Homo sapiens: one gene and its partner. The protein of the gene in region 2 interacts with the protein of the main gene of each other region in a biochemical or structural test. Each region holds a gene or a part of one and is shown on either strand. Other genes may lie near its edges.

What was found.
Region 1: the proteins of MLX (region 2) and MLXIP form a complex in vitro, tested with the Homo sapiens proteins (2 studies listed by BioGRID, with this or other methods).

The regions. Positions count from the first base shown.
Region 1 is NC_000012.12:122,074,848-122,081,763, forward strand, and holds the start of MLXIP (MLX-interacting protein), read left to right. Parts: upstream 1-3,908; 5' UTR 3,909-4,006; coding exon 4,007-4,419; intron 4,420-6,916. UniProt on the Homo sapiens protein: Binds DNA as a heterodimer with MLX and activates transcription. Binds to the canonical E box sequence 5'-CACGTG-3'. Plays a role in transcriptional activation of glycolytic target genes. Involved in glucose-responsive gene regulation.
Region 2 is NC_000017.11:42,563,253-42,570,118, reverse strand, and holds the start of MLX (max-like protein X), read right to left. Parts: upstream 3,020-6,866; 5' UTR 2,995-3,019; coding exon 2,953-2,994; coding exon of another isoform or gene 2,791-2,952; intron 2,501-2,790; coding exon 2,464-2,500; intron 1,650-2,463; coding exon 1,560-1,649; intron 1,283-1,559; coding exon 1,176-1,282; intron 916-1,175; coding exon 816-915; intron 613-815; coding exon 513-612; intron 138-512; coding exon 1-137. Other genes in the region: COASY (bifunctional coenzyme A synthase), read right to left, coding at 4,151-4,213, 4,314-4,460, 4,551-4,648, 4,808-4,892, 5,072-5,136, 5,221-5,410, 5,542-5,673, 5,944-6,158 and 1 more. UniProt on the Homo sapiens protein: Transcription regulator. Forms a sequence-specific DNA-binding protein complex with MAD1, MAD4, MNT, WBSCR14 and MLXIP which recognizes the core sequence 5'-CACGTG-3'. The TCFL4-MAD1, TCFL4-MAD4, TCFL4-WBSCR14 complexes are transcriptional repressors.

The DNA.
Region 1 (6,916 bases), on a different chromosome or scaffold from region 2:
GAAACCCTCAGTTTGTTTATTTATTTTGAGATGGAGTTCGCTCTTGTTGCCCAGGCTGGAGTGCAATGGCGTGATCTCGGCTCACCAAAACCTCTGCCTCTTGGGTTCAAGTGATTCTCCTGCCTCAGCTTCCTGAGTAGCTGGGATTACAGGCATGCGCCACCATGCCTGGCTAATTTTGCATTTTTAGTAGAGACGGGGTTTCACCATGTTGGCCAGGCTGGTCTGAAACTCCCGACCTCAGGTGATCTGCCCACCTCAGCCTCCCAAAGTGCTGGGATTACAGGCATGAGCTACCGTGCCTGGCCTGTGTATTTTTGGAGACAGAGTCTTGCTCTGTTGCCCAGGCTGGAGGGCAGTGGTGCAAACTCTGCCTCCCGGGTTCAAGCGATTCTCGTGCGTCACCTCCCAAGTAGCTGGGGCTAGAGGCATGTGCCACCATGTCTGGTTACTTTTTATATAAACCTTCAGTTTAATCTTTTAGCTTACTGCTGTGTTTTTCAGCTTTATTCACTTTGCTTTTTTTCTATATTTTCGTTTCAACTCAACTTTTAAAAAATCATACTTGTATATTTGTATATTTATATTTATTTTCCAAGACCTCATTTGCCTCTTTTTCATAATGGGCTATTATTGCTCCATGGTACAGAATCTTCTGTTCTTTCCTAAACTATTAGTTATTTTTAAAATATTTGTTAACTTTCTCCCCCTTGCTAGTTCTCAGGTACCCGCTTTCTCCCAGAGTGCTGGCTTTCCTTAATTATTTGCTGACTTGTGCTGGTGTGTAACCCTTCATACTTAGGTATTTCTATTTGTCTGACTGCTGATTTGATTCCAATCCAGTGTTTCTTCTGATTCGTGGAGAAGAGACGACAACGCTGTGAGGCTCTGGTTTTGGTGGCTTGTCTGGGTGTGGGAGCTCCTTGTCATCATGGGATTTTTAGCTCCCTGGGTCGCCATCCTACATGGCCACTCTCCTGCCGATGCTGCCCGCTACTCAGCAGGAGGGGAAGTCGAGACCACCTCCTTAACCTTACAGACATTGATTGTGAGCTTGGAGCACCTTCCGTGACTGGACCACCCATGCAGTGGTCCTTTGCTTTTTGCATTTTTAACTGCAATTTTCCCCAAGAGTCTTCCCTAATACAGTCTCTTAGGAATTGACGGTGGGATTAAACAAGGCATGTTTCTGCACTGAATATGGTCTATGGGTTGCCACTTTGCAACCTCAGCTTTAAGGCTTATTTCCTCCCAGGAAACTGATGTTAACTTTTTAAGTTAAAAATGTGTATATAAGTAATACATGTTTATTTTGGAAATTAGAAAATACAGGCCAGGTGTGGTGGCTCATGCCTGTAATCCCAGCATTTTGGGAGGTTGAGGCAGGAGGATTGCCTGAGCCCAGGAGTTTGAGACCAGCCTGGGCAACATAGGGAAATTCCATCTCTACAAAAAAATTAAACATTAGCTGGGTGTGGTGGTGCCCACCTGTGGTCACAGCTACTCGGGAGACTGAGGTGGGAGGATAGCTTGGGCAGGGGAGGTTGAGGCTACAGTGAGCCACGATCACACCAATGTGACACAGTGAGACCCTGTCTCAAAAAAAAAAAAAAAGAAAGAAAATATAGGTAAACACAAAGACAAAAAAGCAGGGCATGGTGGCTCACACCTGTAATTCTAGCACCTTGGGAGGCTGAGGCAGGAGGATCACTTGAGGTCAGGAACTCGAGACGAGACCAGGCTGGGCAGCATGGCGAGACCCCATCTCTATAAAAAGTACAAAAATTAGCAGGGCACGGTGGTGTGCACCTGTGGTCCTGCTACTTGGGAAGTTGAGGTGGGAGGATCACCTGAGCCCTGGAGGTTGAGGGTGCTGTGAGCCATGATGGCACCACTCCACTCCAGTCCAGGTGAAAGAGCCAGATCCTGTCTCAAAAAAAAAAAAAAAAAAAAGTGGCTGGGCATGTAAACTTACCAAGGACCAAGGAGACAAGTCTTGAGAGAAAGGAAGGCAACTCAAAGGATGGACTTTTAAACACTTGTAACCAGCATTGGGAACAGTAGTAGGTTGAAGAGGGAAATCTAGAACTCATGCCTGAAAACTGCCAGTCATCCAGCCCATTTTTCCATACAGACATTTGGAAATAAGTTAATGGAGCCATTTTGGTGAGAGCCCTCTGTTCCCTTCAGGAGGCCTTTGTCAGGAAGAGGGTGGGGCAGGGGACTCACCCCCCACTCAAATCTGGAACTGAAACCAGCTTCAAAGCCGAGTGCAGAGCCAGCGCGGTGGCTCATGCCTGTCATCCCAGCACTTTGGGAGTCCAAGGCAGGCCTCACTTGAGGTCAGGAGTTCCAGACCGGCCTGGCCAACATGGTGATTGCACCACTGCGCTACAGCCTTGGGTGACAGAGCAAGACTCTGTCTCAAAAAACAAAACAACAATAAAACAAAGCAGAGTGCAGGAGTGGCTGTGGACTCTGGACGCCCTGCTAGGATTAGGATGGGTGTTCCTGGCTCATGGGCCTCACTGGCTCTTCTGATGCCCTGCCACCCCCACCCCAGACTGGCTTTGAGCCCCGGAAACCTTGACAGCTTTCTAGAGGTGTCTGTCAGTTAGGTTGTGCCACGCGAAGTTGCCGTTTCTGCAGGTCAAATAGTGGTGGACTATTGGCAATTTCTAGGCACCTCTGGTCTGGTTGATCCAAATCCTCCAACCTGTGGCACATTTATTTAGCGCTCATTTTGTGCCAGCCTGCCTGCTAAGCAACTTATAGCCATTTTTATTTGTATTTATTTTTCTTTTTGAGACAGGGCCTCGCTCTGTCGCCCAGGCTAGAGTGCAATGGCGCAATCTCGGCTCACTGCAACCTCCACCTCCCGGATTCAAGCGATTCTCCTGCCTCAGCCTCCCGAGTAGCTGGGATTACAGGGGTGCACCACTACGACCGGCTAATTTTTGTTATTTTTAGTAGAGACAGGGTTTCACCGTGTTGGCCTGGCTGGTCTTGAACTTCTGGCCTCAAGTGATCCACCCGCCTCGGCCTCCAAAAGTGCTAGGATTACAGGCATGAGCCACCGCGCCCCACTATAGCCATTTTTAAACTGTCCCAAGTTTCTGAGGAAACGGAATTGTTCACCATTTGACAGAGAAGAAAACTCTGGCTCAGATACTCCCCTTTTAGAATTGTTTCGGGGGCTGGCTCGTCCGTCAAACTTTAAAAAAATAACAACAGCATGCTGAGTTGAAGTTAAAAGAGCTGGGGTCTGGAGGTCGCTGGGCTCAGGGGCGCTGCCACTCAACAGCTGCGCCGAGCTGGGGACGCGCAGGGGAAGCAAGTTCCCAGCTCTGTGGACTCCAGGTCTGAGAAAAATCCTGTCGGTATTCAGCCACCCAGTGTTCCCATCAATACGATGAGAATAATGAGGACAATAGCCACCACGTCCGGCAAACTCAGGCGTGAGCTGCGAGGACTCGGTACCGCCCGGCAGGGAAAAAGCAGGGCCTGGAGGCCGAGGAGCCCCACCCGCACCCACCACGTGGAGCCGGCCGGGCCTGCGGCGAAGCCACAGGGCGACTCCCGGGGCGCGGAGCGGGGCGGGGGCGGGACTAGCACGGCCCCACTCTGCCGACGCCTCTCCCAGGTCGCGACACCGGCGAGCCGCTCCGCCCGGCCACCGTGTCCCTCAGCACCCACGGACGCCGGGAGAGGAGGAGGTGGCGAGGGGCACGGCCGGGAGGCGTGGCCTCCGCTTCCCCTTTTTTTTTTTTTTTGGTCCGCCTAGCTAAGGAAAGGTTCCCCTGCGCCTTTAAGAGGCCGACGCGGGCAGCCGATTGGCCCAGACGCCTCGGTGACGTCACGCCGGGGCCGGAGCCCTCCCCCTCCCGCCGCGCCGCGCGCTCGCGGACAGTCGGCGCGCGGGCCGGGCCGGGCCGGCGCCCCTCTGCCTCGCGCGCTTGTCGCGTTGCCCCGGGCTCCGGGGGATGCCCCCGGCCGAGCCCTTCTCATGGCCGCCGACGTCTTCATGTGCTCCCCGCGCCGGCCTCGCAGCCGGGGCCGCCAGGTGCTGCTCAAGCCCCAGGTGTCCGAGGACGACGACGACTCGGACACGGATGAGCCGTCCCCGCCGCCCGCCTCCGGCGCGGCCACCCCGGCCCGGGCCCACGCGAGCGCCGCGCCACCGCCGCCTCGGGCCGGGCCGGGCCGCGAGGAACCTCCGCGCCGCCAGCAGATCATCCACAGCGGCCACTTCATGGTGTCGTCGCCGCACCGAGAGCACCCGCCCAAGAAGGGCTACGATTTCGACACGGTCAACAAACAGACGTGCCAGACCTACAGCTTCGGCAAGACTAGCTCCTGCCACCTGTCCATCGACGCCTCGCTCACCAAGCTCTTCGAGTGCATGACTTTGGCCTACAGGTAGGGACCCCCGCGACCCCCTGAGGCCCCGGCCGGAGGCCCTTGTTTGACAAAACAAGCGTGGAGGGAAGGGCCGCCTGGCAACCCCGTGGCTTCATGCATTCCCTTTGGGTCTTCCTCCTTCGGGAGGGTTTATGGATCTGGGGTTCCCCGCGTTGCCAGAGGAGCCGGGGTCCTGGCCTCTTCCCCTGCCAGCAGTGCCGGGGTCCTTTCGGGTTCACGTTCCCCATCCAGGCCCTCCCCTCCAGTGTCCTGGGACCACCGATGTTGGACGAGGAAGAGGTATAAACACTGGCTGCATCTTGTGTTACCCGACTCTATCGACTCCTTCCTCCAAACGCTTTGTGTGTTTCCCCCATATCCAGCAGCGGTCAGGACCACCTGTTCGGGGTGACTGGAGGCTGGCTCTGCTGTTTAATGGTTGTGTAACACCTCGGAGCCTGTTTCCTCCTTTATAAAAGGGGAATGACTGTAGTGTCTGCCTCCAAGGGGCTGTTGTGGGGATGGAGTGAGATAGGTAAATTGCTTATTCCAGTGCTTGGCCAGAGTTAGGTGTCCCTGCACCTGGAGGCTGGCCCCCTTACAACCTCATCGGGAGGCCCGCCCCCATCTCGGGAGGGCTTTGGGTGCCTCCTAAGAAGACTTTTGGTGCCACAGCTGTTGGAGGTGCAGTCTGTCCTTCTGGCAAGTTGGAGGGTTTTCTGGCCGGTCCTGAAACATTATATGAGGGAGATGTCATTGTTGAGGGCAGACATCCCAGACACCGTTCTGACATGTGGATTCGGCTCTGGGCAGAGATTCCTCTTTTCCAAGTCACAGAAAATGCCTGGCCCTCAAAGATTAAAGCGCTTTTTCACTCTCTCTCCCTTTCCCACTATGAATATTAGGTATTTGCTGCAGGTAACTTTTTTGTCTGCGCAACAGAACTTCTTTGGACTGGCAGCAGCGGCCTTGAGCAGCTTGGCCCTGCAGAAAGCTCATGATGGGATCTCTGCTGAGTTAAGCTTATTGCATTAGGAACTGGACTAGCGGGGGCTGTCTTAGGTCTGCTCTGGAGGCATCGCGGGAGAAGTTTCCTAGGAGACTCCATAAACAGCGTAATAAAAGAGCAGGAATATCTTGCCCCCTCTCACCTCACCTTTTTAAGAGAGCTGTGAGCCCCAAGCATATCCAGGTTTAAATGTTATGCTTTTACCTGAAGTTAAAATATTAGATACTTAGCCCTGGATGGCACCCCCCTCACCGCCGCGGTCCCTGGAATAAACGATTAGTCAACTTGTTCTTTGTTATGTTCCTGAAACACCCCTATTTCCTCTCTTGAAGGTTTCCCTGATGATCTGTTCCCGTAGCTCCTCCTCCCATCCCCCTTACCCGGCACATTGGTCAGTCTCTGCTGATTCTCTGGTCTTGCCAGTTTGAGCTGGCACTGAGCCTGTAAAGATGTTCTGCTTTTTAAAAAACAAATGGTGTTGAGGCTGCAGCCCTGTGCGCCCTCCAGTCTCTGATTTTGAGCAGTTCCATTGGAATCAAACCCGACTGGATCGCAGCATATGCTATGCCTCGAGAGAGCCTTTTCAAACAAAGCTCGAGGTGAAAGACTGGAATGTATCTTATTAAGAAAACTTAATCCTCTTCTTTATTTTAATATAAACTTCTACATATACAGGGAGAGAATGGATGAGTCACGGGGGGCATGGACTGGAAAGGTCTCACCTAAGTAAGCTCTGCTAAATGAAAACTAAATCAGTCTCCCCTTTGCACTCTTGTTTGGATAACCTAAAGGCTTATTAAACAACACCAAATAATTTTAGTAATGGCATTTTTTTTTTCATTTCTCTCAAAAATATTTTGGCAGCTGGCCGTTGCTCAGTTAACTTTCTTGATTGCAAAATGCACCATCAGTTTGGTGCAAGAAGCTTATCTTGCTCTCTTGGCTCTCTCACTTTCGCTGCTTTTCCCTGTGCCTAAGGTCTCCTGCTGCCTAAGGTCGGCCACCTAAGGTCTACCACCACAGGCCCTCGGATGGGATCTGTCCAGTCATTTCTCATGAAGATGCCCTTTGTCTGTCTGTGTGAGGCTGGTTTGTCCAGTGCTGAGTTTAGTTGGCAGTGTAGAACTTTGGTATGGATGACAGACAAATGACTCAAAACCAGTTGTCTGGGCTGTAGTCTGTGGCACAGAAAGAAACTAGAGGAAGGTGAGTTTCTGACCCCAGCTCTCCTAGTGAGAACTGCTACCTGGCTTTCAGGGAAGGAAGGTTGAGATCGGAGGCAACGCGGGGCGTGGTGGCTCATGCCTGTAGTCCCAGCACTTTGGGAGGCCGAGGTGGGGGATTGCTTGAGCCCAGGAGTTCAAGATCAGCCTGGGCAATGTAGCAAGATCCCCATCTCTAAAAAAGAAAAAGAAAGAAAGAAAAAAAGGGATTGGGGGCAGGGCAGAAAGAAGACTTAACCTCAGAGCCTGTCTGGCTTCCATCCTGGTGGGGTTCATGCCTTCC
Region 2 (6,866 bases):
CTGAGATGGAGGCATTGAAGGACTGGAACAGGGAATCCATGATGCCTTGAAACACGTTGAACTTGACCTGGTCAGAGACCTGGTCCTCCCCTTCATGGGGGTTGTCCTGGTGTGCCTTCACAATCTGCTCATAGTTCCTAAAAGCATGCAGGCCAGGGCTGAGGTGCTGCAGCAGCTCCGCCCACCCAAGAAGAATGACGGGACTATCCTGTGTACTCCCAGGAATGGCAGCCCCAGAGAGCTTCTGGGTGGGGTTCAGTATCAGGGAGATACTGCTTCCAGGTCAGGAAAGGTGGCCCTCTCTCTCCAACCTTCCTTACATTAATCCAACAGGCATTTCCTGAGTGTCTGCCATGTGTAAGGACAGTTGGGGATACACAGTCCTACTGGCTAGCTCAGGAACTAAGAGTATTATCTGTACAGCAGTAACTGATGTGGCCTTTGAACAAGGGAGGGTGTGCAATGAAGTTGCCTCAGAAGTTCTGGTTCCCCCCATTCAGCACCCCTCTTACACTTTCATGATCTTTAGGGCGGTGACATCCTTGCGTAACGTGGACACCTCCTCCTCCTGCTTTTTCTTCTCCTTGTGCAAAAACTGAATGTAGTCAATGGCTAGGGTGGGGGCAAGAAAAAAAGGACAGGTACAGAAGTATTCTCAACCAAGAAGATAAGGCTGACTTTGTTCCCCTTACCCCAGACCCCAACTATCCCATGGCAATCACCACACCAAGGCCGAGCCATGGGTGGGTAGGAGGCACTGGCCTCTTCACAGCCCCGCTTGGCTCCATCCCCTCCAGTGCTTTCCCTAGCCATACTCTTTTGTAGAACGATGGCTTTGCTGAGCTTTTGGGAGCCAATGGAGAAGTCCTGCTGCTGGCAAGTGGGGACGATGGTCTGAAGGTCATCATAGCCTCTCTGTGGAAACAGCAGGGGAAATGGGTTCTTTAACCCTGAGAGATTAAAGCAAAATGGCACAAAGTTCCTCCATGACACCAAGTTCTATGCTCACAAACTCAATGGGGTGGGAAGGCTGCAAGGGAGGTGTTTGTGCCTGGGACTATACTACCTGCCCACCCCCTAGGGTGCCTGGGACTGTCTGAGTGGGTCAGGGCACAGGGAAGCTAAACTATGCAGGGCCCTCCCGCACTGGCTGAGGCACAGGCCTCCCTGTTCACCTTGATGGCGTCCCTCCTCTTCTGCTCAGCCTGAGTGTGTGCGCGCCGCCGCCGGTCTTTGTAGGACTCCTTGTAGGCCTCCTGGTGGTAATCACTGTCCTCATCATCTACGCTCAGAGATGGGGGCAGGGAAAGGTCATCTTGGGGCCCAGTGGGGTCCAGCTAGCCCACCTTTCCCCAGCTGGGAAGAACCTGGTGTCCAGAGAAGGCAGATGGACAGAACCACCTAATGTTCCAGATGAGGTGAAAGATGGTGAGACCTTGTGTCTGATACTTTGGCTCCAGCACCCCTGTGTGGATGGCTGGGGCTTCCCTGTCTAGGAAAGGTACTACAATTATGACATATCTGAGCCCCCCGAGGTCGGGGGGGATGTTACTGCCTACCTGTGTTGGGGACAGAAGAGGCACTGGTGGAACCGATGCTATTAGCTCTGGACACTACACTCCCCTTGCGGGTGCTTTCTACAAAAAGCCCTGGAAAAGAGAGGCCCCAATCACTAAGGGGTGGGGTGGGGAACATTGCCAGACCCTCAGACACCTGTAGGACACAATGGCTTTCTTTTATTTATTTATTTTTTTTTTAGACAGAGTCTCGCTCAGTCGCCCAGGCTAGAGTGCAGTGGCGCGATCTCGGCTCACTGCAAGCTCCGCCTCCCAGGTTCACGCCATTCTCCTGCCTCAGCCTCCCGAGTAGCTGGGACTACAGGCGCCCGCCACCACGCCCGGCTAATTTTTTTGTATTTTTTAGTGGAGACGGGGTTTCACCGTGTTAGCCAGGATGGTCTCGGTCTCCTGACCTCGTGATCCGCCTGCCTCGGCCTCCCAAAGTGCTGGGATTACAGGGGTGAGCCACCGCGCCCGGCCACACAATGGCTTTCTTAAATGCTGACCTCTTCCCTTCAACCCAAAGCCAACCATACTGGGCCCCCCACTTCCTGCCAGACCACGCTGCAGTGCTCTGCTCCCTAGTGTCTACACTGCTCCATAGGCCTGCATGATACCCCCCTGGCTCACAAACGGGCATGTGGACGTGATGAGGGTGTGAGTGATCAGCTGCTCCACTGAGTGGTGAGTGATCAGTTCCACCACTTCCCTGTTCCAGAGCAGAGGGAACTAGGTGTCACCCTCAGTTGTTTTCTGCCCTTGTCCTTCAGCTCCTGCTGTCTCAAGCCAGGAACTCTGCTCAGGGAGAGTGGACTGTGCTCAGGCGTGGTTGGCAACGCCACAAGAATCTAGAGAGCCTGGGCGGGAGTGTCCCTCTAGAGCTTAAGATGGGGCAGCTACTCACCGGGGTCCAGGCTGTTGTCGCTGTAGGCATACTCCACCTGCGGCACAGAGCACGGGAAGGGCCCGTCAGACCTCCGCCCCTAGGGGGAGGCGCCCCTTCCACTGCAGGCACGCACAGCGCGCCCCCCATTCCGGGAAGGCGCCTCTGTCACCCTGCGCGCTTGCACACACACAGCCCGGGGTGCGCGGGCAGCTTAATGAGTCCCCCGAGACTGGCACAGGCTAGGGCGTGCGAGTGCCTCCCCTGTGTATGATCCCTTCCGCCCCTACTCCACCCCAGTGCCCCGTTCCCCCGACTCGCGCGCACACGCCTCGTTTGTCTCCCCACCTTGGCACACGCGGGGTGAGAGCTGTCTTCTCTGCAGCCCCGGGGCACGGAGAGCGTGGGGGACTTTGGGGACAGGAGGGAAGCCCCTCGTCTTCCGGCCCCCCTACGTGCACGAGCCCGACCCGCCCTCCCCTCGCCGGCGTGCGCGCCCACGGGGCTTGCCTTGACCCAAGGGTCCTCGGGAGAGGCGCCCGGCTCCGTCATCTTGTACCCACCGGACCGGAAACGGGCCAGCGGGCGGGCCCCCTGCGGCGAGGAAGCGGGTGGCGTGCCCACGTGACCCGCGCCCGCCAATCCGCGACCGAGAGGTGGGGCAGGGCGAAGCATCGCGCATGCGCAGCCCAAAGACTTTACTCCACGGTTCCAGCCGTCAAGGCCCGGCGCTTGGCCTGGCGCCAGCCTCCTTCGAGACTGCTCCCCGCCGTGCCTGCCCTCCCCGGGTTAGGCAGTGGAATGGCGGCGACATGAAGCGCGTTTTGTAAGATGGAGTCCCCTCAATTGGCTTGTCAGCACACCGCCGCAGATAGTGTGTGCACGCGCACTGTCCGGCCGGCCGGCTCCCCACGTTACCCTGAGGGCGGCCTCCCCGCGCTCACCGGACCTGCACTGCTGGCCGGTGTGTCAGGAACCGGGCAGAGAAGCCCCCAGCCACATCGTCCGACCCCACCAGGCTGCAAGCTCTGTGAGGGCAGAGGCCCCGCCTGGCGCGCGGAAGGCTGATCTTCCAACACCCAGCCCAGTGTCTGGCAGGATGCATGTGGAATGAACCCTTGCAAAGAACCTGCTAGCTAGGTTATGCGGCCTCTCATATTAAAAACAAAACAAAAACAATAAAACACGGCAGTACCTAGAAAGTCTACACCTTACTCAGAAGAACACAGCTGGTCAGTGGGAGGGCCAAAGCTCGCCTCTGGCTAGCCTCAAAGGCCATTCTCTTAACCACTGCATTGCCCAGGCTTCCAGCTCAGGCCTGGGCCCTGCACTTGTGGCTTAAGGATCCCAAAGATACTTAGGGGCATTGGAACAGGAAGCAGACACCATACAAGCAACATCTCAGAACATTCACCTTTAATTCTGTTACAGGTTCCAGTATTTGCGCTGGCCCTAGTCAGCTGTGGGTAAGAGTCACCCATGGGCAAGAGTGGGGAGGGGACTGCTCCCCCATGAACCACATCCTCAGTGTTGGCCAAATACCAGCGTGTTGGGTAGGCTTCCTGTGTCCACCAGGCCTGGCCATGTCCTGCACAGTATAGCTTGGACCTCTGGGCCTGAACCAGGGTGAGCATCAAGGCCCCCATTTCTCCTCACCACGGGGTCGCTTGTCAGCTCCAGGAGCCAGTCTGGCCCCACTGAGAACTTTTCAGTCGAGGGCCTGATGAGTCTTGGGAATGCGCTTCTGCAAGAGGGCCCAGGCTTTCTCCACCTTCAGACAGGCCAGGATGTTGGGAGGAAGAGAGGGCAGGGTCAGGCAGTACCCACTGGAGACTCCTTCCCCACAACCCGGCCTTGCCCTGGGCACCAACCTGGCGTTGGGTGATATGCGGCTCCCACAAGGTGCTGAGCACCACGTGGCTCTGTTCCACAAGCTGCTGCCCGCTCATCTGGCTCTGCAGCCGGCTTTGAGCCGCGGCTTCACTGAGGCCATCCCTCTCCACAATGCGTCTTACAGCCTGAGCACAGACGAGACATTTGTCAGGAAGAATTCCAGCTCACAGGATAGGATCTGCAGTAGGGATGGTGTGGGGGGTGGGGCGAGATACCTCAGTCTCTGGGATGACAGCAGTCCACACCTCATGGACCAGGTTCTGCCAGCCGGCTTCAAGCAACACAGCGGCATCAATCACACACACACGCTTTCCTGTGGGGAGACCCCAGTCACCGCCAGCAGTGCCGACGTTCTCCCAGGCAGAACACAGTCCCAGGGTGAACAGACAGTCCCACGTTGGGCAGGGAAGCTCCCAGGGGAAGAAACAGCTTAACTGTCCCCTTAGCTGTTGCCATCCTCCCTCCCACTCACCCTCAGCCACAGCCCGATCCATCTCCTCTCGGGCCAGCTTTGCGATAATTGGCCACATAATGTCCGTGAGTATCTTCAGCTGCTTCTGGGGAGGGGAACAGAGGGCAGAGGTTACCTTCTCTAGAAGAGGCAGCCAGCCCGAGCAAGGTGGTGTTGGGAACAGATCAATGGAAATGGCATTCTGGGCCAGACCAGAGAGGTCCACTGGACCCTGACCCCTGGGTCTAGTAGCGGCTTAGGAGCCCTTAGGAAGTTATTGTTTACCTTATTCCCAAACACCCGGCTGCCTAGGACCTTCCTGTTGATGATGCCATCTTTATGGAGAATATCTGGACAACACAGACAGACAACTGAGCACAGAGGCCTGGCTAGCTCCTCACTCCAGGCCACTTTCAGCCTTCCCCAGTTATTACCTGTTCCAAAGGCCTCCACCACAGGCTGGTAGGCAGGGCCACCTGGGGCATAGGCCCGATGACCCAGGTGGTCACTGTCAATGACAAACGCCCCCAGGCCCTTCAGTCGCTGAGCTATTGAGCTCTTCCCAGAGCCACTGATGCCAGTCAGCCCAATTACATAGAGACATGTGGGGAGCTCTGGCCTTTCCTGGGGATAGGTGAAAGGGAACCCACAGTTACTGGGGCCCTCAGCCTCATGCCTGGGGCTGAGCCCCTCAGCTTCTACTCTCCAGCATTGCCAGGACACCAAGCAGGAGGGAAGGAGGGAGAGGAGCTTACATATGGAGGCCGAAGCAGGTTCCCCAACATTCGCTGGCGGAAGCTGGAGGAGCTGACTTTGTCCTCTTCATTCTCTGTATGTCTGAGGTCCTTCAGCAGCTGGATCTGGTACAAAGCAAGTTCCTCCAGGTCCTGGGGTAAAGAGGAAAGGGTAAAAAGAGGGAAGGAGGGAGTGAGAGGAAGACCCTGACATCCAACCTGCCCCCCCATCCTCCCCTTCCTACCCAGGCTCCTCCTCCTCCGACTCAGCGGGCAAACTGAGAACCAGTTCCTCCTTGCTTCTTCCCACCACCCTGAGCCCCCACTTCTCTCCTCTGGGGCCATGGTACTTCCAACAGCCCCCTCAAAATGGCCTTCCCCGTCCCCCATCCACTCCCTCTGCCAGTCTCCCTCAGGGGTTACATTCTCAAGGCGGAAGCGGTTGATGGCCATCCCCCCACGATAGGTCTCCTCGCTGACCACCAGGAACTCCAGGGAGGGGTCAGAGCCAGCGGGCCCATAGGGGTCCAGCAGGGGGATGACATCAAAAGTCAAGGAGGGCTTGATGTCCACCAGGAATTCACTCAGATGTTCCACACGTTCTGTATAAGGTTGGAGCAGCTCAGGGAGCAACTTGCCTGGGGAAGGAGCCCAGAAGAACAGTGAGATCTTTTTATTGGGGAGGAGAGTATGGGCCAGTTTGGGAAAAAGTGTCCCTAAGTACAGTATCCCCAGAGGGGGTGGCAGAAAGGGTTCAACTGGTAAGGCCTATGGTGATGGTGAGGGGAGCATGAAGGTGAAGAAACAGGCAAGCACAATAGTCACTCCAAGGGCTGGCATGTGTCCAGAGAATAAGCCACCAGGAAACCACTCCAGAGAACGAGCAGTGCCAGAGGGCATCAGAGGCAGATGGAAAATTCCAAGACCCATGCCATGCTTGAGTTTCCTCCTCCTGTCTGTGGCACTGCTACCTGCAGCTCACTCACCCATTCATTCCCAGTGTCTCATTAGGGTGTATCACCTGGAAAACTTGCTAAAATGCAGATCCCTTTGCTTCACATTTGGGGTATTCTGATTGAGTGGTGACTGGACCACATGCTGAGAAAGCTGTTCATTTGACAAAATGGCCTTAGCACCAATTGAGTGTCAACCACTGTGACATTTGGGAAGGGTGGGAAGTAATGAATGGCCCTACCCTTCCTTGATCTCGGCATAAGGGTCGGGGGTGGGGAGATTTGGGGATCCTCCACCCTAGTCCAGGGTCCCTCTTACTCACTCTTCAACAGATCTTTGTCTGCTACTCCCACCACAAGCTGCTCCTGGGCCAGGATGCACGCGACACTGAG